2 separate regions of the Homo sapiens genome follow, and region 2 is linked to region 1. Evidence: fine-mapped expression QTL. A gene starts in region 1. The other region holds a variant in brackets. All regions are shown on one strand. Distances are between the middles of the regions.

Region 1 (11,204 bases):
TGGGGAAACCCCGTCTCTAGTAAAATTACAAAAATTATCTGGACCTGGTGGCGGGGATCTCTATTCTCTGCTACTTAAAAGGCTGAGGCAGGAGAATCAGCTGAACCCAGGAGGCGGAGGTTGCAGTGAGCCGAGATTGCGCCACTGCACTCCAGCCTGGGCAACGAAGTGAGACTGTCTCAAAAAAAAAAGCAATGGGGGCTGGGCGCCGTACCTCATGCCTGTAATCCCAGCACTTTGGGAGGCTGAGGTGGGCAGGTCGCTGAGCCCAGGAGTTTGAAACCAACCTGGGCAACATAGAGAGATTCCATCTCTGCAGAAAAAAATAATAGCCCAGGCGCGGTGGCTCATGCCTGTAATCCCAGCACTTTGGGAGGCCGAAGAGGGTGGATCACTGAGGTCAGGAGTTCGAGACCAGGATGGCCAACATGGTGAAACCCTGTCTCTACTAAAAATACCAAAAAAATTTAGCTAGGCGTGGTGGCAGGCATCTCTAATCCCACCTACTTGGGAGGCTGAGGCAGGAGAATCGCTTGAACCCGGGACGCAGAGGTTGCAGTGAGGCGAGATTGCGCCATTGCACTCTAGCCTGAGTAACAAGAGCAAGACTCTATGAAAGGAAAGAAAGAAAGAAAAGAAAGAAGAAAGAAACGAGAAAGAAAGAAAGAGAGAGAGAGAAAGGAAGGAAGGAAGGAAAGAGAAAATAATAATAATAAAATTAGCCCAGTGTGGTGGTACATCTGTAGTCCCAGCTACTCGGGAGGCTGAGACGGTAGGATTGTTTGAGCCTAGATGGCAGAGGTTGCAGTGAGCCAAGATCACGCCATTGCATTCCAGCCTGGGTGACAGAGTGAGATCCTGTCTCAAACAAAAACAAAACAAAACAAAAAGCTGAGTGGGGTCACACAAACCTGTGGTCCTAGCTACTTAGGAGGCTGAGGTGGGAGAATCCGGGGAGGTCAAGGCTGCAGTAAGCAGTGATTGTGCCACTGGACTCCAGCCTGAGTGAAAAAATCAAGACCCTGCCTCAAAAACAAAGAAAATAAGAAATAAAAAGCAATGGGTATGTCATTACCATACACAGAAACACAATACCCACATCATACACAGAAGGTAACTAAAACATACACACACAGAAACCCACACATCATTCAGTTCTAGCTGCAGAGTGTCAACTGCCCGGGATTCTGAGCCTGAGGTCTGTGCTCTCTCCTGGACATAAGGGGGCTGAGCCAGCCTTACAGAGATGCTCAGGCCACACTAGCAGCAAAGGAGGCCTTGCCCCTAGAATGGGGAGCTGCTATGGGTTTCAGAGGTGAGTGATGCCCTCTCTGCCTTCCACCTAACCTCACCCTGCAGACCTCACCAGTGGTTCACATCTCACCCTTCAGGAAAAATCCCCTCTGGCCACGCAGTTTTCATTTTGTTCTCAGGCCTGGATCCCTTATAGAGATGCCCCAGGAGCAGAGGCCCGCCCACCCGAGCAGGGAGTCCCAGCTGTAGAGTCTCCCTTGAGGCTGAGGCCTCTCCACCCCGCCGAGCAACCCCCTTCCTTGTCCCAGCCCTTATAGCGGCTGGGGGAGTGGGCAGAGGGCCAGGCTGGTACAGGGCACACCAGCTGGACCCCAGCAAGCCCCAGGGAGCTGGGGTGAGCTCATCCCAAGCCCTCAATTATCCTCCTGGCTAATGAGCATCTGAGAACCTCCATCCCATTCTGTAAGGACGAACCCCGGGGACGTGAGGCCAGATGTCACTACGGAGGGAGGTAGAGGAAATGGGCTTGGGGGAGGGGCGCGATACTTCCTGCCTCCTCTTTGTTGGGGAGAGAAAGGTGGGGCTGCAGCAAGCAGTTAGGGTCGCAGTTAAGCGCAGGATCCTGTAGCCCATCTCATGGGCTCCAGTGCAGGCTTGGAGCCCACTACCTTGTGACTTTCAGCAAGTGAACTCGCCCTTGCTGCTCAAAGTCTGTCCCTGAATCATCAGCACCACTCGGGAACTTTTGAAAAATGCAGGATTTGGGGCTCAGACCTAGTGGGTCAGAAGCTGTATATTTTATTTTATTTTATTTATTTTGAGACAGGGCTCACTGTCACCCAAGCTGGAGTGCAACGGTGTGATCACAGCTCACTGCAGCCTCAACCTCCCAGGCTCAAGCAATCCTCCTACTTCAGCCTCCCCAGTACCCGGGAGTACAGGCGCACAACGCCACGGCCAGCTAACTTTTCTTTTTTAGAGATAGGAGTCTCACTACATTTCCAGGGCTGTTCTCAAACTCCTGAGCTCAAGCCATCCCCCTGCCTTGGCATTCCCCAAAGTGCTGAGATTACAGGTGTGAGCCACCGCACCCGGCCTCATCTCCATTTCTCAGACGAAAAAACTGAGGCACAGAAACGTTCGGCTGTTTTTCCAAAACCACCCAGCAGGAAAGCCTGGAATCTGGCAATCTGACTCCCAGCTTCTATGCCATGCTGAATCTCCCTCACCATTTTCCCCCAAGAATCTTTCCCCTCTAAGTGTCCCTGCCTCCCCTGTCATCGTGTTGCCAGTCCTGGCTCTGGGGTTCTTAGCCTGCCCCTCCCAGGTCCTCACCACTAATGAAGTCTCTGCCAACTTGAGGCGGGGACCACAAAGGCTGCTGGAACTGGCTTTGTGGGAAGAACCTATTTCCTTCCATTCTGGGCTCCTAGGTGTGGCTGATGGGGCAGGATTTGGGCAGATGTGGGGGCGGAGCTGTTCTGAGATGCCCGGCTTTGGCCTGTGGGGCAGCTGGCTGAAGCTGGGCTCTCCTCTGCCTTTCTGTCCTCCCTTCCTGCGCAACTCCCAGCTCACCTCCTGTGCCTGGCTTCCTGACTAGGCTGCCGCTGAACCCGCCCTGGAGTTCTGCAGTCCGATCATTCATTCATTCAACATCCATGTATTCAGCACCCACTGTGTGGCAGGCACTGTTCTGTAGACACAGCAGTGAGTGCAATACACCTAGTCCTGGGAGAGAAGACCAAAAGTTCATCACACAATGTCAAAAATGTACAATTTCACAATGGGTAGGCTGGGCATGGTGGCTCAAGCCTATAATCCCAGCACTTTGGGAGGCCGGGGCAGGAGGATCACCCAGGAGTTTGAGACCAGCTCAGGCAACAACAAGAGACCCTATCTCTACAAAAAATTAAAAAATTAGCCGGGCATGGTGGCATGCACCTGTAGTCTCAGCTACCTGGGAGGCTGAGGTAGGAGGATCGCTTGAGCCCAGGTTACAGTGACCTATGATTGCACCACTGTACTCCAGCCTGGGCGACAGAGCAAGACCTTCTCTCTAAAAAAAAGAAAAAAAATTGCTTCGTCAAATCTGCCCACATTCATAGATATAGGCTGAGTGGGACGATGGCTTGAGCCCAGGAAGGAGTTGGATGGAGGCTGTAGTGAGCTGTGATTGCACCACTGTACTCCAGCCTGAGTGACAGACCAAGACCCCGTCTCAAAAACAAAACAAAAAACCCCAAGGGAGCTACTCTTGGCTGGGCGATCAGGGAGGGCCCTCCTGAGGAAGGGGCACTTAAGCTGAGATCGGGAAGATGAAGTAGAAGAGTTCCAGCTGCAGGGAGCCACATAGGCAAAGGCCTGGCGGTGGGAAAGGCTTGGTGCACTGGGCGCAGGGAAGAAAGCCCAGCGAGGCTGAGTGGAGGGAGTGAGGGCCTGGCCACCTCAGCCTCGTGAGCCCAACCCGCCATGCTCTTCCAGAGGCTTCTGCTTGAGAATGGGAAAGAAGTTTCCAGCAAATAAGGCCCCCGTTCCCAGGAGGAGGTCCCAGCTCGCCCTGCCCCCTCCTGTCTTCTCAAGTCCCCTGGGCCACAGAAGCCTTGAGGGACCCACCCTCACCCCTTCTGTGGGCCCCAGGGCTGGGGTGTCCTCTCGCCGATGGCCTTCTTGGGGTGGATGAGTGGAGATTACTCCAATAACTGGAGCCTCTGTCTTCCCAGGTAGACAGGCCTGGCCTCAAAACCCTCTCTCCATCAGGAGCAGGCTGTGGGACTTCAGCTCTTTGGAGCCTCAGGTTCCTCATCTGTAAAATGGGAAGATTCTTTCTTCCGGAGTCATCTTAATAAAATGTGTTGGGCTGTTTATACAGGGCAGGCATTTGGTGGGGGCCAAACCACCGGGTAATTATGCTAAAAATAACTATGATTATAGGTGGCAGAGGGGTGCAAATGCCTCACAGCCTCATCCCGCAGAGGAATGAGAGCTTCGTCAGGGCCGGGACCTTGTCTGGCTCGTGGCTGCTCCCACGACGACTGGCGTGGCAGGCACGTGGTCAGTGTTCCGCCATCGACTGACTGGGCGGATGAATGATACATAAATGAATTCGCGAACGACTGATGCCCAGCTTCCTCCCGAAGCAAGGTCATTCACCTCAGCGGTCGCGCCTCTCCCCTGCCCCTGCCCCGGATTCCCCGCCGCTCTCAGCTCTCGAGGAGTATGCAGCACTCTTCCGTGCAGCGTGCCTCAGTTTCCTCCGCTGTAAGCAGGCGGGACCAAGGCAGCCTGCCGGGGTCAGGATGAGGCTGGCAGAGGAAGGGCGCCTGTAGTGGGGCCCCGTACCCACGGGCGCCCAATCCGCGCTCGCCAGGGCCGAGCCCGCCCGCCGCGCGCAGCCCCCGCCCCACCGCCTGCCGGCCCCGAGCACACGTGACTCCGCCCCGGCCCGCCCCGCCCCGCCGTCCCAGCGCGGGCTCCCATTGGCCTTTCTGGGAGGCCCCGTCCCCAGCCGGGGAGGAGCCGGGCCCCGCCCGCCGCAGCGCGGGGCTCCTGCGTCCCGAGTGCGCGGCGGCCGGACCGGGCGGGCGGAGCCGGGCCCGCGGGGCTGCTGCGGGGCGATCGGGCCGGGCCGCTGCCGCGCCATGGTGAGCCGGGCGGGGCAGGCCGCGCGCTCGGGCCGGGCGGGGGCGCCGGGGCCCGGGGGCGGGAAGGGGGAGGCCAGGACGAGGAGGGGCGCGCGCGGCGGCGGGGCCGGGCCGGGGTCTGCGGGCGGGGGAGGGGCGGCCCGGCGGGCGCGGCTCGGGGGAGGGTCCGTTCCAGGGGCCGCGCCCGCGGGCTGGGGTTCTTTGTCAGCGGCGCTGCGGCGAGATCCGGACAAAGGAGGCGGCGGGGGGCGGAGGCCGCTTTGTGGGGATCGCGGGGCGCTCGCCCCCGCCCGTGCAGCCCCCGCCCGTCCTCAGCTACGCTCCCGCCTTCCCCCGGCATTTCGGGGTTCTTCAAAATTCTGGGAGCTCCGGGGAGGGCTCCGGGGATAGGGGTCCAGGTGACGTCCGGCGCCCGTCTCGCGGGTAGGGAAACTGAGGCCGGGCCGCAGCGTTCGGCGCCCGGTTCCGTGGGCAGCGGCTGCGCGGCGTGGGCATGCCTAGCTCCCCTGGTCCCCGTCCCACACCCCGCCTCCGTCGGGCCGATTCGAGCTACCTCCCCAGCTGCCGTCCCCTCTCCAGCTGTCGCCCCCTGGGCCGAGCCCCCTCCTCCCTGGAGCCTCGCTTTGCTCCTCCGTGGAGTGGGGGAGACGCCGGCGCCGCCGGGCAGGGTGGAACGGGAGGGTGCGCGGAGCGCGCCTGGCACCGCGCCTGCCACGCCGCCCGCGCTCAGCACTCGGGAGCCGCCGGGGCGCTGTCACCCCTAAGTCCCCAGCACCCAGCCCAGGTCGCCCAGCCCGCCCCAGCGAGGGCCACACTGGGGTTCACCTGTCCGCGGCCCCTCAGGCACGCGGGAGAGGAGGTAGGGAGAATGTGGCATTTTAGAGTCAGGGTCGAAATGCGGGATTTTGGATGCAGGTTGCCTGGGTTTGAATCCCTGCGCGTCTACTTTTGAGCTGTGTGACCTTGGGCAATGGACTTAACTTCTCTGAGCCACCAATTTCTGTATCTGCCAAGAGGGAACAGTAATAGCTCAACTGCCCTGTTGTCTTGAGGCAGAAAGGAGACATCTGCGTGAGCTGTTTATCTCAGTGTCTGGCACATATAATTGCCACCAACTTTCTCCGGCATCTACAAGCAAAGTTGTTTGGCCAAACAGGCCAACCCTGGGGCAGCCTGTGAAAATGACCAGCGGGTGATTCACAGGGTGGGGGCATGAGCCTCTGGCCTGGCCCGAGGAAGACCCCGACTGACCTTGGGGCAGTCCCGGTTCAGAGCTCTGCGGGCTCCCGCTTCCTCTTTTGCCACTGGGGAACCTAGGGGATTCTGGAGCGAGTTTCCTCTTCTGAGGATGGGGGTGTCATGGGTGGGGGTGGAGGATGAGATAACACTGGCCAGAGAGCTGGGCACAGCCCCATCAGTGTCAGTCCCACTGGCATCCGGCCGTTCTTGGTCCTGGCTTCTGGAGGGCTGGGGCCTTGTGTGATGCGTCCTTGTGTCCCACTGGCTGCTGGAGGCCCAGGGCAGAACGGACGTCCCGCCTCGTCCTGGCTGTGTCCAGCAGTGCCCTCTTCTCCCTACAACCCTGTTTTCCCAGTCAGAACCTGGGGCAGGAAACGTTTCTGGTTTGTGACCCGGGGTTCGCTGAAGAGTTTGTTGGCACCCTTGGCAGGTGGCTTTATGGGGGGAGGCAGTACTGAAAGCCCCGTAGGGATGGCTGGTCCCCTGTAAGCAGGGCAGCCCTCCTGGCGTCTGTCAAGGAGCCTCAGGAGGTGGCGGCTGCAAGGCGGGGGTGTTTTGCTGGTGGTGAGCCCGGCAATGCTCATGATGTGCCCGGTTGAGTTAGGAGGAGGCAGCGTGTCCCTGGGGAAGGGGTGTTTGTGGCACTGGGCCTGGGCCAGGCTCTGTGCCCTTCTGGCCCTGGGGGTGGGCTTGGGGATCCCTCGGGCTCAGTGTTCTCCCTTTGTCCCTGCTGTAGCACACAGGAAGGTGTGGCTGGTGACATGCAAACCTGGTGACCTCATGTCCCTTTTGTTTTCACTTTTCTTACCACTTCTCATCCTCCCCACGACCTGGTAGATGAGGTCAGGGACTCGTATCCGCTTTGCGCATTGAGAAACTGAGGCCAAGAGGAGCAGCTTGCTTGGCTGGGCGGAAGCAGGCCGCAAAAGTGAGTGCTGGTCTGGGAGGATGGAGGGGACTCCAGCCTGCTCTACTGCGGTCTGTGGGCCCCCCGGGCCTAGAGCACATGGAGTGGCCTCTGGAGTGGGATCAGGCTCAGACAAGCCGGGGTCCTGGGAGGGAGAGCAGGACAGGAGGATACCCGTCCCCTCTCTGGTAGCTGGGGCAGGGACTGTCCATTTGAATGGCTCTGACGGGGTGGGGTTCACCCCCGGCTCTGCCCCCATGCTCCTTGGGTCCCAGTTACGGATCTCTGTGGGCCTTGGCAAACCCGGCAGGACAGTGTCAGTAACACCTGCAAGCTTGGGCTGCTGGGGAGGAGTGGCCAAGGGCGGTGCAGGCCCCCGCTCACCTGGCATGGCTCAGGCTTGTCTTGCAGTTGTTATTCCTTGGGACATGTGTGGGCTCTGCCGGGAGACAGAGTGTGTCCTGTGCTGCAGTTGACCTCCTTTGGGGTTGTTTGAGGATGCTGGGGCAGGGGGTTCTGGAGAGCCTGGGCCTTGGATCTTGCTTTTATAGTGGGTGGGTGGGATCCGAGAGTCAGGACCCCCTTGGCAGAGGATGGCAAGACTGAAGGCACATGGAGCAGGAGGGTGTGTGTTTGGGGGATCCAGATGGCCTTGGGCTTCAAATGCCAGGCAGAGGGGACACTCCAGCCTGCCCAGAGATGGAAGGCCCAGGCTGTGCTCTGGGTCCTGGCCCCTCTGCACTTGGAAGACCCCTTGGCTCTGCTGGGCTCCCCTCTGGGCTCCCATCCTGCCTTCTGGCTTTTTGCTTCACCTCCCTGCGTGCGCCTCAGTTTCCTCACCTGCCAGATGGAGATGCTAGGGTGAACAAAGGTGGCTGCAGCCTTTCTGGATCAGATGCTGGTGGGAATGAATGTGAGCTGCTGTCATGATGGTTGTTGGGTGGGCCAGGATTCCCATGTGCCAGCCTGGGCATCTCCCCAACCCAAGCTGTGGCCCGTCCCTGTCCCCTGCATCCTGTGGGCTTTACTGGATCAGGGCGAGGGGTTACCCAGCTTGCAAGACACAGCTTTGCTCAGAGGGGCTAGAAAGGAAGAACAGACAGGTGGGGTCCAGCCAGGCACAGGGGCTTGTGGGGACCTGCTGCCCTCCGCGCTTTGAGTTTCCCGGGGCTCTGCTTGGCCACCCCCTTCCCTCCCTGCCTGCCAGCAAGCATGGAGCCAGCTGCCCTTCCATGGGCTCAGGCCTGCCCTAATCCACTGGCACTCGCCGTTCTGTCCCCACACTAGGCCTGCAGCCTTCTCCCATGCAGTCTGCCGGCTTTTTTGAGTCTGTTGGGACAGAACATGGGGACCTGTGCTCAGGGTTCTGGGAGTGCCCTGAGTGTCAGGGACCCCCCCACCTATGATCCCCCTGAGAACAGGGTCTCCTCTAACTCATCACTGTATCTGCAGGGAGGGAACACTCAACAGACCATTCACTGAGCACCTACTGTGTACCCGTGCAGGGCAGGGGTACAGCTGTGGGCGGGACAGACGGTGCCCTCCTTGGACTGCCTTGGAGTCCAGTGCGGGGAGTGAGACAGCAGCCAGGGGACAGCCCCTGAGCCTAGAGAAGGGCAGGTAGCAAGGAGAGCAAATGAAGTAGGGCAAGGCTGTAGTGGTGGGGTGTGGGAGGAGGGGCGCCTGGGTCCAGGGTGGTCTGGGAGGGCAGCCTGCAAGAGGCGCCTTCTGAGAAAGTCCCGAATAGGAAGGTGCCAGCCGTGGGGCGGTCAGGGCAGAGGTGGGAGCGTGGGCTCGCAGCGGAGGGTGTGGGGACGCCTGGGGAGGCAGGGAGCTTGGATTCTCTTTGGTGCTGGGGAGGATTCTGAGTGGGGAGAACGCCATCACATTTTTGCAAAGATCGTTTCTCAGGAAACATTTGCTGAGTGAATGAAGGAACAGATACGCACTCGGGAGGGCCGGACCACAGGCCAGGCGTGACTGTGGCTCAGTCACTGGGCTCTGTGCTCGCGGCGGGGCAGAACCCCACATCTGGCTCTGCCCATGCCTCCTGGCCTGGGTTCAGGGCAGCAGACGGGGTTTTGGGGTCACCACTCCTCTTAGAGAATCCCTTTGAGCTGGGGCCGCCTGTGCCTCAGTTTCCTCATTAGTCCTGGGGCCAGTGGTTGAACTGGGGCCCTTGAACTCAGGTGCCTCCTGGCCTGCCCACCTGGCTTTGCCCCGCCTATCCCAGGTCCTGGTGCCATTGTTTGATTTTCTACTTCCTGTCCCTGAACCACCCCCACCCCCAAACACACACACTTCCCCTTCCGAATTGATACTGACTTGTCTTCCTGTCCAGAAACCCCAGGGGAGGGCAGGCACCCCAGCAGGCCCTGGGAACCAGAGGTGCAGGGGAGAGGGAGGTGGGAGGTGGGAGGCACAGGGCAGGTTGGTGTTCTTCTTGCAGGGAGAGAACACAGAGGTTGGGACGAGTGTAGACAGGCTCACCCAGCCATGGTGGGAAGGCTGTCTGTGGGGTCAGAGGGGTCCCCTGTCCAGTCTGGAGGCGTGAGAGAACAGCTAAGTGGGGTTGTGGAACCGGATGGTGGCAGGGGAGAGGCCAGGGTGGTCTGTACATGCAGGGGACAGAGCAGGGCCACCGTGGAGCTCATGGCCCGCTGGAGGGAGAGGTGGGCGCTAATCAGGTGGCCATGCTCCAGAAGCCAGGGTTGCATGCCAAGGCCACTGCTCCGGAGGGAAGGAGCCCGGCCGGGTTGGGAAAGCTTCCCTGCCAGAGCTGGTATTAACCGGGTCAGGGTGTCTTTCTCCAGCCGGGCCATCTGCGTGGTGGGGGCTGCCCTGTGCACGATAGGTGCCAGCAATATCCATGGTCTCCCTACTTGATGCCAGGAGTGCCACCTGCCCCCAGTTGTGACAACCAGAAGTGGCTCCAGACATGGCCAGATGTCCCCAGGGTGGGGACACAGTGGCCCCCAGTTGAGAACCACTGAACAAGGGTAAGCCGCCAGAACGTTCTGGGCAGGGGCAACTGCCTGGGCCAGGGCCTGGTAGGAGGGTTCGTTGCGGGGGTCAGCGTGGCTGGCGAGCAGGGCATATTGGGGATGTGTAGTGTTCGGTCCTGCAGGTCATTGTGAGGACTTGGAAGGCGTCCTGGCTGCAGTGGCCCCTGAGGGTGGGCAGGGAGATCCTTAGCGCCTGCGGCAGCCTGTCTCCTGGAGTCAGGGGGAAGGCAGTGGAATGGAGGGAGGGCACCTCCTCTGCCCAGGGCCCTCTGCAGAAGCTGCCGGTTTCCCCGGGCCTGGTCCCTGGACAGACGCTGGGGGCGTTGACTTAGCTGCCTTTGTCCTTCAGGCAAACCTGGCTTCTGGGGAAACTCCTGGTTGGGTAAGAATCATTTCTCCTTAAGGGTGCTGTTCCTCAAGGACGCAGCAGGTTCGACCCTATTTGGAGGGAAAACCTCCTTCCAGTGCTGTCTGCCTGTGCTGATGTCAGTCTTATCCAAAGGGAACAAAAAGCCAGACGTGTCGTTCTGAGTGCCGACCGCACGCCCAGTCCTGTGTAGAACGCGTCTCGGGCCTGTCCTCATCCTCACTGACCCCGGGTGCAGCCAGCGTTTGCTCTGTTTGTGGCGAGCGAGGCAGGAGAGGGAAGAAAGTGCAGGGTCTTGGGACTCCAGAGAACCTGCCAGCCTCAGCACTGCGGGGCAGCAGAGGCAAAGCCCTGGCCTCAGCATGCTCTCACTGGCTGTGCCTTGGGTGTCACCTAGAGGGTTGACAGGGTGCCTGGAGCTGGGGACTCTTAGACCTTATGTGCATTCCATAGCCACACTGTCCTCCGCCACTTGGCAGGCCCACCCATGGGTGAACTCCGTGGCTCGGCCAGGTGGAGGTGGTGGTCCCAGCCCTCCAACTTCTGGCGTCATTCTTTCAACATGTGGAGCACAGGCTTGGCCTGGCCTGGGAGGGGCCTCATCCCCGCTCCCACCCAAATCAGCTGGTGCCCCGACTCCTGGCACTTGCCAGGGGGACCCTCTCTGCCTTCAGAGCCTTAGCCCTCACCGTGCCCCCTGCCAGGAACACTATTCCCCATCAGCACCGCCTCCCTGCCTCCCACCTGCCCACCCAGGTTAGCATCTTGGCACCTGGTTGCTGTGTTCCTGA
Region 2 (11,204 bases), 31 kb after region 1:
AGAGACGAGATTTCACCATGTTGGCCAGGCTGGTCTCGAACTCCTGACCTCAGGTGATCCACCTGCCTCGGCCTCCCAGGGCTGTAATCCCACTGGGATTGTAAGCATGAGCCACCGCGCCCGACCAGCAATGCTTTTTTTTGAGACGGAGTTTTGCTCCAGTTGCACAGGCTAGAGGGCAGTGGCACCATCTTGACTCACTGCAACCTCTGCCTCCCAGGTTCAAGCGTTTCTCCTGCCTCAGCCTCCCAAGTAGCTGAGACTACAGGCGCACACCACCATGCCTGGCTAATTTTTATATTTTTAGTAGAGACGAGGTTTCACTATGTTGGCCAGGCTGGTCTTGAATTCCTGATCTCAGGTGATGTGATCCACCCTCCTCAGCCTCCCAAAGTGCTGGGATTACAGGCGTGAGCCACTGCGCCCAGCCAGCAATGCTCTTAAAGAGTTAGGCATTATCATTTTTCTCCTATGAAGGGGAATTTATGTTTCTATTCCTTTTACCTAACAGGCAGTTTTGAAAACACAACTCATGTCACATTCTGTGTATCACTTGATGTCATTTATTTCATGTGAATAATTAAGGAAATCTTGGCAAATAACTGTTCGCACAGTAGATGTTTCCTTCTATTTTCTTTAATCAGGGAAATCTGTGAGCCTGAACATGCTAACCACGCCTTTGCTTACCAGATTCAGACGATGTGAATGCCTCAAATAAACACCTTTAAAATAGGAAACAAGTCACGAAGACTCTTTGCTGGCTGAGGTAAGCATTTCCTTTGATTAACAAGTTGTGTAATACACACTGTGATGTCTTATAACCTCTCTAGAACTCTCTAGAGACACCAGGGTGTCAGTGGCCTCACGCCAGTGTCAGGATCTGTACTTTTGCATGTGTGTGTGGGTACACATGCAGGTATGCATGTGTGTAGAAGCAGCTACCCACTATGGGCTTGGTGCGGCCACCATATGGTCACTCCTGACTGGCATCCTACATGCACCACAGCACAACTGTCCAGAATGTTGGTGCTTGGTATGCCCCCAACTCTATTCCACTCACTCTAAGATGACCTCTCTCTTCTCAACAATGCAAGCATCCTCAAAGTTCTGCCCAATATTAGGCCTAAGGTGGTAATGAAAAAGTAAAGCCACCTAACTCTTTCGTGGTCAACAAGCTAATGAATTTACAGCTCATCTTGCGTAAGTACAGCGTTCATCCTTCCCACCTTACCCAAAGGCTTCTTCATCTCTAGTCACTGTGTCACAGTTTCCCCGATCATAGACCCTACTTTCCACCCTCCACCTCTACCACCCAAGTTCAGGTTCTTACTACTTCGCAGTTTTCTGGAACCCTCCTGCCAGAAAAACGTTCGTAATGATAACGCACAGCCCTGGCTGCATCTCTTCACTGTCAGTAAGACTTGTATGGGCCAGGTGCAGTGGCTCATGCCTGTAATCCCAACACTTTAGGAGGCCAAGGAAGACCGATCGCTTGAGCCCAGGGCTTTTGAAACCTGCCTGGGTAACATGGCGAAACCCCATCTCTACAGAAAAATACAAAAATTAGCCAGGCGTAGAGGCGTGCACCTGTAGTCCCAGCTACTTGGGAGGCTGAGGTGGGAGGATCACCCGAGCTCAGGAGGCAGTGAGCCGAGATCATGCCACTGTACTCCAACCTGGGCAACAAAGGAAGACCCTAACTCAAAAAAAAAAAAAAGAGAAGACAAAGACTTGGATGACTATGGTTAATCTTGAAATCCTCAGAGAAGTCCACAAGGCCCTCTCCTCCAAAGGCTTTTTCAAGATCTCTCCCCAGTTAGCCCTTCCTGCAGACCACAAAACCCGGCCTCCTTCCTAACACCTAAACCTGCAGCAACTCCCGTCCCTCATGTCTCTGCTCAGGGTCCTCCTTCCCGTAAGTTTTTCTCAACCCATCAAGATCCTGGCTGCCCCTACAAGTCCGTCTCGAATACTTCACCCATCCAAAGCCTCTGCTAACTCCTCCCCTGCCCGGAACCCCGCTTTCTGAGATGGCACCCTCCCTCCTCTGGTTCCTCCTGACCCTGGGCCTGATCGTCCTCTACTTTGAATTATAGGCAGGCTTTCACTCCCTGTACTGGACAAGCCTCTAAGACCACAGGACAAGATGGTGTCGCATCTATCCTTTCTCCCCTGGAGCTTCCCAGCACAGTGCTCAGTAAACATTTGCCAAACTGACCTGAAACAAAAAGGGAAATGTGCTGGACAGGCACTTTGCTTGTCTGAGTAATTCATAATACGGTGAGATGCCACCTCGTGTTCGGTCATCTCACCCACATGCTGAAGTTAAGGGAACGCACTCACCTCACAGAGACAATGGGAGCCCCAAAGAAAGGAGTCACAGGCAAAACCATGATAAAAAGGAGGCCTGTTGGTAGGTGGAGGATTTGCAGACTGCTGGAGGGGACACTCATTCAGAAACAACAGGCGAGAAAGAGTCTTCCCACCAGGTGCCTAAATCCAACCACAACCCTCTGGGCAGAGGCTGTGGGCTCCTGCCACAAAATACAACCCAGCCAGGACCCTGACACACCCAAACCAGACAGGAGAGAACTCTCCAAATCCACAACCACAGCCACACCACCTTGACCGAAAACCTTCCTTTCCTACAATGAGCTTTAAGGCTCTTAATATTAGATACAGTAAAGGCCTAGTCATTTGAAATGGTGCCTCAGTTCACAAAATATCCATGTAGTGAAAATTTTCTAAAGAAATAGTTTTATTACTTTGAGTCCTCCCTAATTAGAGGGGAAGAAACAAAGCTATTTCATTTCTCTCCTCTTTCTTCCTCTAAACCAAAGAGCAGCATTCATTCAGAATACTCCCCAGAGGGAATCATAACTTGAGCAAAAAGACTCCAGCACAGCAAAGGGAGGGATCCACCTGGGCGAGAAGTCCTGCCTCCCTGTCCCTCCAGGCAGGAGGCCAGGCCAGCGCTGAGGGGCTCAGGTCTGCTTAGCTGGCCAGTGGTACACTGGCTGTCTGAAATTGGTTTTGGCCAATTAAGGGATCCTTGAGGGAGTGAAAAAATAAAAACCTCAGTAAATGCAATTTTGCCACCCCAGGCTCGCTCTGCATACTGTGCCTGCTGTCTCTCCAGGCTCGCTCTGCAAAATGTGCCTGCTGTCTCTGAGCGCCTCCAAATGCTCCGTGTGGAAAATAAACTCACGCCCAGAGCAGGCGCACCAGATGAAGCCGAAGACAGGCAGGAACAGCAGGCTCCGATGGCGCTGCCTCTGAAAACCACTCTGGCTTCTGCACGACAGGGAAGGTTCAGAGAAACAAGGTGTCCCAACATCGCTGCTGCTGCTCGCTCTCCTCTGCTGTCCTGAGGATGGCCAGGGCTGGCAGTCTGGCCAAACCCCCAAGACAATGGCATCTCCTAGGCCACACTAAACTCGGCCTGTGTTCCTGCCACTCCCTGTTTCACCCCCTAAACAGGAAGCTCAACAGCAGCCACATCAGAAGAGGGCATTTGGTCCTTCTCTAGAAGGGCACGGTGTGGCTTCCCTGCCTCTTCCCACTCACTCCAGACACCAACAGCTGTCAATAAATATGGCCAGAGAGGCTGCGGCAGTCCCTGTCCTAGACACGGGCTCTCTCCTGCCCATATGGAGGGGCAAAGAGCAATGCTCAGAGCCACAGCTGCCCCTCGTGGCAGCCATTAGCTGCCAGAGTAAATGACTGAGTGTGGGATGAGAGGAGCCAGGTAGATGAGGCTTTCCTACTCCTCATGAGGTGCTTTTCACATCACAGCTCTTACCTCGTCTATTAAAGGATGACTTTCGGCCAGGGGATTAAAAGGTATGAACAGAAACAGCGCTGGTCCTTTCTTCAGCTCGTTATTCAGCAGGAGACTCTTGCCTCCGTGTGGCCGCAGCCACCGAAAGAGCGTCTCCTGGTTTTCTAAGGCCCACTTACAGATGTTCTCAGCTGTGTAGTTCAGGACCTCCCTGGGGAAGACCTGTGAAGGACAAAGGCACAGAGGATAAAGGAGAGCTCGTGAGGTGGGGCAAGCTCAAGGCACATCAGTGCTGTTCCAACCCCACCACTAAGGGTGAGAAAACCCAGGCGTGGAGCGGGGCCTGGCCCCACTGTGCAGCTAACACCCGCTTCTCCAGAGACAGCATTTCCTCACAAGTGGTTGAAAAAACAAAAGTGGTTGCAGGAGGTGACTTCCATATCGTGTGATTCATCTTTCTGCCTTGAGACAGACCCACCTATCAACAAATAATTCTCCCTGCCAGCTGGTGGCGATAACAACCTCTATCACCCTGTCCAAGGACAGGTATTAAACGTCACTGGGTATTCATAAAAGGACCAAGACATATCTAAGGGAACAGAAACTACAGAGTCAAGGATCATTTAGATTTTGACCTTGGTCCTTCAAATGCTGCCCCCAAGGGCAGCATGGAGCCTCCGTGCGGCACAGGCTGTCTGTTCTGCTCACCTGTATCCTCCGGGCCTAGACGAACACCAGGCACACAGCAGGAACTCAACACATGTCTTCAGCAATCAAAAATGACCTAAACTTGCACAAGGCCACGGATCATATTTTACGTGTACGAATAAATGAAAGAGACACCTAGATTTTTTGCTTTGTTTTGCTATAAACAACCAATGTATGTGAACATAAAATTATTTTTGAAATTCTAACAATTTAAATCACTGGCTTCAAACAGAACTACCAAAGGGGTGCTTCAGAGGGTTCTGAAAAATGAGATATTTAAAACTCCTCAAAACGAAGATTTAAATTGACTCATAACAGAGACTAACCACTGCTTGTGTTTTTAAAAATAATGGTATCCCAGTATTATTTCATTTGATAAAAGGAATTCTACTGCTACACAAACCAACCAACCTTAATCACTACCAAATCGAAGCAGAAACCTGATATATTTTTCCATCTCATAGTCCTACCTTTCTTTCCCCATCTACTTTTAATTTCTTTCTCAGTACCCTTTACTATAAATAAATATATGTAGGCTGTGTAACATGCTAAAAATGAAGGATGTAGGAAAATGACAGATAGCAAAAGCAGATGATGTCAAAGCAGCTTAGGCAGAGGCACAAGGAGCGTAGGTGGGCAGCAGAGAAACAACCACAGCAGTGATTGTCAAGGTGGGACGATGGGAGTTTGAAAAACCATACTCAAACTACACTCAAACATTTCCATTCGGAAAACACAAAAATACATTTGACTTTTGGAATATAAACTGCAAGAAGTAAAGCACAGCATCTGGGCTACGAGAGATATGCAGAAGCCAGGGCGACTGGCAAGCAAGGGGGCACCCCTGGAGTGGGCCCAACAGCCCCTCCGAAGGCACAAGACTTAGACATTGTGCCAAGGGGGGCGCAGGTTTTAAAGGCTGGGTACACTGGGTGCAGGGAAATTGATCTGTATATGACCTGTAAGTTACTGACAGTGATGCGAGAGAGACAGAATACTTCAGGAAAGTCAACTCAGTGATGTGACTTAGGAAGCAGCAACAGAGTAGACGCATAGGACTGAGCAGGACACAGGTCAATGCTCAGAAGCAGCTGAGTTCAGGCTGCTCCACAGAAAGCAAATGAAATCGGGGAACAAAGGCGACAATGGAAAACTGACGCTCTCTGGGATGAGAAGCCATCAACTTCTCACTGTGACTTGACAAGAACTTCAAAAATCCATTACATCAGCTAAGGAGAAAAGCATGTCACATTACTACTCATCATAAAAGAAACAGATAAACACAGAACATCACTCAGTGGAAGCCTAGCTTCTGAAAACACGGGCTCAGAGTAACAATTCTTCAAGAGAGTAACTCTGCAATTTTATCCAAGAAGAAAAACTTTAAAGTCTGTACCAAAATCTAAGAATACAAATAAAGAATTTCTATACATTAATTTCAAGAGCCCTCTAATGCATGGGTTCTTAACCTGGAGCCTGGGCTCTAGGGTGGGGCTGTAAGAACTCTCCATCCATATATAAAATCATATGCGCTTTTCTAGAGAGTGTCCATAGATTTTAACCAATTCTCAAAGGAGTCTGTGACCTAAACAAGGTTAAGAACCACTGCGCTAACATAAACGTGATTTCAAAATACTTACAAGTGATGTGTTGAAATGTCTATGTAAATACACACTTCCAGAGTGTACTAAGGATACCAGTTTCGCAAGATGTTTATTTGTGATAACCCCAAATCGTACTGTTCCTAGGTAATCTGAAACAGAAAATTTTCCTTTATTAAAGAAAAGGCCTGTGCCTTAAAACAACCACAAAACCCAGTGATCAAGTCTTGAAGCACAAACCCCTGCAGCTAAGCTCCTTCTGGTAACCTAGCCTAGAGAGGGAAGGAAGAGGCGCTGAGGAACCTCTCCTCCTGAAACCGACCTCGGCCCCTCAGATGTCAAGCCTGCTTCTGAGAGGATGTCTCTGACTAACGTCTCTGACAATCACTTGTGCTGAGGAGTCCCCTGTGTCCACCTATGATGGTCTGACCTGTCCCCATTGATGACAGGCTGAGGCACATGCTGTTCTCTTTGTCTGGACACTTCTTGTGGCTGGTTCCTTGTCATTACTCATCTCAGCTCCTACTTTCTGTGAGAAGCCTTCCTTGACCACCCCACCTAACAGCTAATATTTAGGGGAGAGAGTTTACAAAGGGAAACTGGGCTCCTGACCCATTCAGGTACTC[C/T]CTTTACCAATTACCCTATTTTTTATAGCACTTATTAACATTTGCATAATCTCATTCATTTATTTAGATTTCCTTTGGCCCAATGTCCTCTTTTTTTTTTTTTTTTTTTTTTTTTTGAGATGGAGTCTCGCTCTGTGGCCCAGGTTGGAGTGCAGTGGTGCGATATCGGCTCACTACAACCTCCGTCTCATGGGCTCAAGCAATTCTCCTGCTTCAGCCTCCCAAGTAGCTGCAATTACAGGCGTGTGCCACCACACCCAGCTAATTTTTGTATTTTTAGTAGAGACGGGGTTTCACCATGTTGGCCAGGGCAGTCTCGAACTCCTGACCTCAAGTGATGTGCCTGCCTCTGCCTCCCAAAGTGCCAGAATTACAGGTGTGAGCCACCACACTCGGCCCAATTTCCTCTTCTGACTGTAATTTCTGTGAAATTAGAGACTTTGTTTCATGCTAGTATCCCAGCACCTACAGAAGTGCCGGGGTGTATAGTTAAGAGGTCAAAAAATATTTATTAAATGAACAAATCTAGCATATATAAAGACTTATACAAATCAACAAGGAAAATTGTTAACATGGACAAACCACAGAAAAGGAAATATGTATACATGGCTAATAATTACTGGAAATAAACTCAACCTCACTATCCCAAAAGGAAGCAAATTAAAACAAAAGACTACTTTTGACCCTCAAATTGCCAAGAATTTAAGACAAAGGAAACATCAAGTATTGATGAAAGTAAAGAAATGAGTATTTGATGTGATGCTGGTGGAAAAAGGCAAAACGGCACAGCCACTCAGGAAAGCAGCTGCTGTACCGACTACAAGAATGGACACAGCTGGGATTTCCACTGCTAAGCATCCACATGTTTGTTAGGAGTCACATGCAAGGATATTCACCAAGAAACATTCTGCAAATGTTAAAAACAATGAGGCAGGACTATACACCACAAACAGAGGCTGAAAGAGTAGACTTTTGATGTTAACAAAAAAAAAAAAAGAACTCACACTTATAAAAGTTATGTGTGTGTATGTGTGTGTGTGTATGTATGTATGTGTATATATATATATATATATATGTTTTTTCCCCTACAGGCACATATGTTTAGAAATGTATAAAGAATCTAAAAGGATAATGAAAGTGGTTTGATGTTGGAGAACGAACATCAACAGGGACCTTATCCTTATGTGTGAAGCTTTCATTTTTTTTCATGGAGTATAATATTTGTGTGATTATAAAGTATTTAGTGTTAAAGGAGGGTGAATAAGATACTGCAGAAAAAGGTACATTCTTTCCTATCCCCTTTTTGCTTTATTAGCACATGCTAAATAAAACATCAGTTAAACTACAGGCCAGGCGCAGGGGCTCATGCTCTTAATCCTAGCACTTTGGGAGGCCGAGGTGGGTGGATTGCCTGAGCTCAGAAGTTCAAGACCAGCCTGGCCAACATGGTGAAACCCTGTCTCTACTAAAAATATAAAAATTATCCGGGTGTGTTGTGGTGGGCACCTGTAATCCCAGCTACTTGGGAGGCTGAGGCATGAGAATCACTTGAACCCAGGAGGCAGAGGTTGCCGCGAGCTGAGATCCCAAGATCGTGCCACTGCACTCTAGCCTGGGCAACAGAGTGAGACTCTGCCTCCAAAGTAAATAAATAAATTTTTTTTTAAAAAACAGTTAAACATCAAATATTACCAAATTATACACAAGTAGCTAAGATATAAAAATATTGAGGTGTTAAACCCATAAAGTTTCCAGTTTTATCCCATGACCCCATCTTTCAGTGGTGTGGTCCTCTCTCCCTCAGGTAAGGAGTGGCCGACAAGGATGAGGTCGGAGTGAGTATGTCCCTACTGCCAGAGTCAATAATTTTTCATACAAATCTGATGAGTGTAAAATGGCACAAAACAAAAGAAATACAGGACAAATAAGCCAGGCTGGGGAAAGGGGACTGGAAACGGGAAGGCAGGGCTGAGGAGGCCTGGCACTGAGTAGGCCTTTTTGTATCTGACTCCTAGGGCCACAGTGATGTATCACACACCCTTCACACACTCCAAAATTAAACAATTAGTTAAAACCAAGCGAGATGTGGCAAACCCAACGTGGAATACAGCACGTACAAATAACCCTAACTATTGCAAACGGGTAACACCATGGTGAATGGGACAGGAAGAAAGAACCTAAGTAACTGGAAAACAGTATCTTGACTGGATGCTGTAAAACTAAAGGCAAAAAGAACTGTACATAAATGCTGTAAATCTAGGTAGTAAATGTGTTTCTTAAAGAGGTATAAGTTAGCAATTCTGAAACTATGAACTTATTTACTTCTTTGTGGTAAGTACATTATACATAATTACAGCCAGGACTCTCACTGTTGCAGTAAGAAGTTATATATTAATAAGAGAAGGCTAAAATAAACCCTGTGATGTTAAATTGAAATCAGAGAGAATGAGTATAAACTTAAGGCTTTTGATACACACACACACACACACACACACACACACACACAGAGGGAGAGAGAGGGGATGGATAGAGAAATACAGATATATGCACATGTGTGGGTATAATACACTTCCTAGTTCTATCTACTGAGAAGACCTAGAAGTAATGACATCCTAATACCAAAGAGCATACCTAGCACGTAGATCTTGGTTTCTAAATGCCATTCTCCAGTAAAAGAAACCAGGGCCCTTGGAGAAGAGGTTGATTCCAGAGCTGGGGTGAAGAAAGTACAAGATAAGCCTGAAATATCTTGTATCAGAAGTAAAGAAGTGGGCTGGGCATGGTGGCTCACGCCTGTAATCCCAGCACTTTGGGAGGCCAAGGCGGGTGGATCACCTGAGGTCATGAGTTTGAGACCAGCCTGGCCAACATAGTGAAACCCCATCTCTACTAAAAATACAAGAATTAGCCGGATGTGGTGGCACGCACCTGTAATTCCAGCTATCTGGGAGGCTGAGGCAGCAGAATTGCTTGAACCCGGGAGGTGCAGGTTGCAGTGAGCCGAGATTTTGCCATTGCACTCCAGCCTGGGTGACAAGAGTGAAACTCCGTCTCAAAAAAAATAAATGAAGTAAAGAAGTGCTCATAAAAGGATGGGGGTTTGTCCAAAGGACCCAGGAGCCAAGCTGAAGCCCTCCTAGTAGCCAAAGTTGGAACAATTTGAGCAACAAAATAAACAATGACAGTACACAGAATAAGATAAATACCCATGACTCCATAATAATATTAATGAGAACAGTCAGCTCTTCTTTAAGGGAGAATTCCACTAATAATGAAAAAAGAATGAAAGAAACAGAAAATAACCATTTGAACACCAGAGTAATTGTTGCAGGCAAGATCCACTGATGGAGGCTAAAATTCATGAGCAGAAGTTTGAGGATATATTTACATAGTGTCAAATGATCTTCCCCCAAGGTATTTATTTATTAATTACAAAGGAAGAGATAGTAACTTTTCAGTGGAGAAACACAGCAGACACTACTTTAACCAACTGATCAAAGTTAATGTCACCAGTAGGAGACACACTGACATCATATGAACCCCCTGATAAGAAGTGCTGAGAAGTACCTATTTCTATGGTATTGCTGTCAAAAGACATGACCTATTCCAGTCACAAGAAAACAGACAAAATTGAGCAATTTTCTACAAAATACCTGAGAAATATTCTTCAGAAGTGTCAAGGTTATAAAGGACAAGGAAAGACAGAGGATTTGTCATAGGTTGAAGGAAACTGAGAAAAAAACCAACACATTGCGATATGGGATCCCAGACTGGATCCTGAAACAAAAACAGACACTAGTGGAAACATGGAGACAATTCAAATGAGGTCTGCAGTTTAGTGAATAGGACCGAACCAATGTTAACTTCTTTTTCTTTCTTTTTTTTTTTTGAGACAGATTCTTGTTCTGTCGCCCAGGCTGGAGTACAGTGGTGCATCTCGGCTCACTGCAACCTTAAGTGATTCTCCTGCCTCAGCCTCCCGAGTAGCTGGGATTATAGGCATGCACCCCCATGTCCAGCTAATTTTTCTGTATTTTTAGTAGAGACAAGGTTTCACCATGTTGGCCAGGATGATCTCGAACTCCTAACCTCAAGTGATCCACCTGGCCTCAGCCTCCCAAAGTGCTGAGATTACAGGTGTGAGCCACCACACCCAACTCTAACATTGACTTCTTAGTTTGTACAAAACCACCTAACAATTGGTTATGTAAGATGTTAACAATGGGGGAAACTGGCTAAAGACAGGCAATTATGGAACTCTCTGTTTTATTTTTGCAACTTTTCTCTAAGTATAGAATTAGTTGAAGATTTTTAAAAACTTTGTTTAAAGGGCATGGCATATAAGTCCAGATCCCAAAGCTGTCAGAAGAAACAGACCAAAGAGAGGACGTGATTTAGTAGGACCAAAACACCACTCTCCAGAAGCAGCTGATCTTGGAGGACAGTCACAGTTAAAAGAAGAGAAGGAAAAGCAGCCAGTAAGGAAAT

What was found.
Region 2: its variant is fine-mapped to the expression of SNN in whole blood (TOPMed, PIP 0.99). The same link has a PIP of 0.9 or more in visceral fat.

Annotation. Positions count from the first base shown.
Region 1 is chr16:11,663,646-11,674,849 of GRCh38, forward strand. It overlaps SNN (stannin), which reads left to right and starts at 4,810. Exons shown (of 2, transcript NM_003498.6): 1 at 4,810-4,895. RefSeq lists silencers at 4,483-4,902, 9,392-9,461 and enhancers at 6,010-6,109, 9,034-9,853.
Region 2 is chr16:11,694,323-11,705,526 of GRCh38, forward strand. It overlaps TXNDC11 (thioredoxin domain containing 11), which reads right to left. Exons shown (of 12, transcript NM_015914.7): 6 at 6,130-6,242; 7 at 3,803-4,003. Among named protein-coding and RNA genes, the nearest start is that of SNN, 31 kb to the left of the region's middle. The variant C/T (reference allele first, on the strand shown) is at 6,717.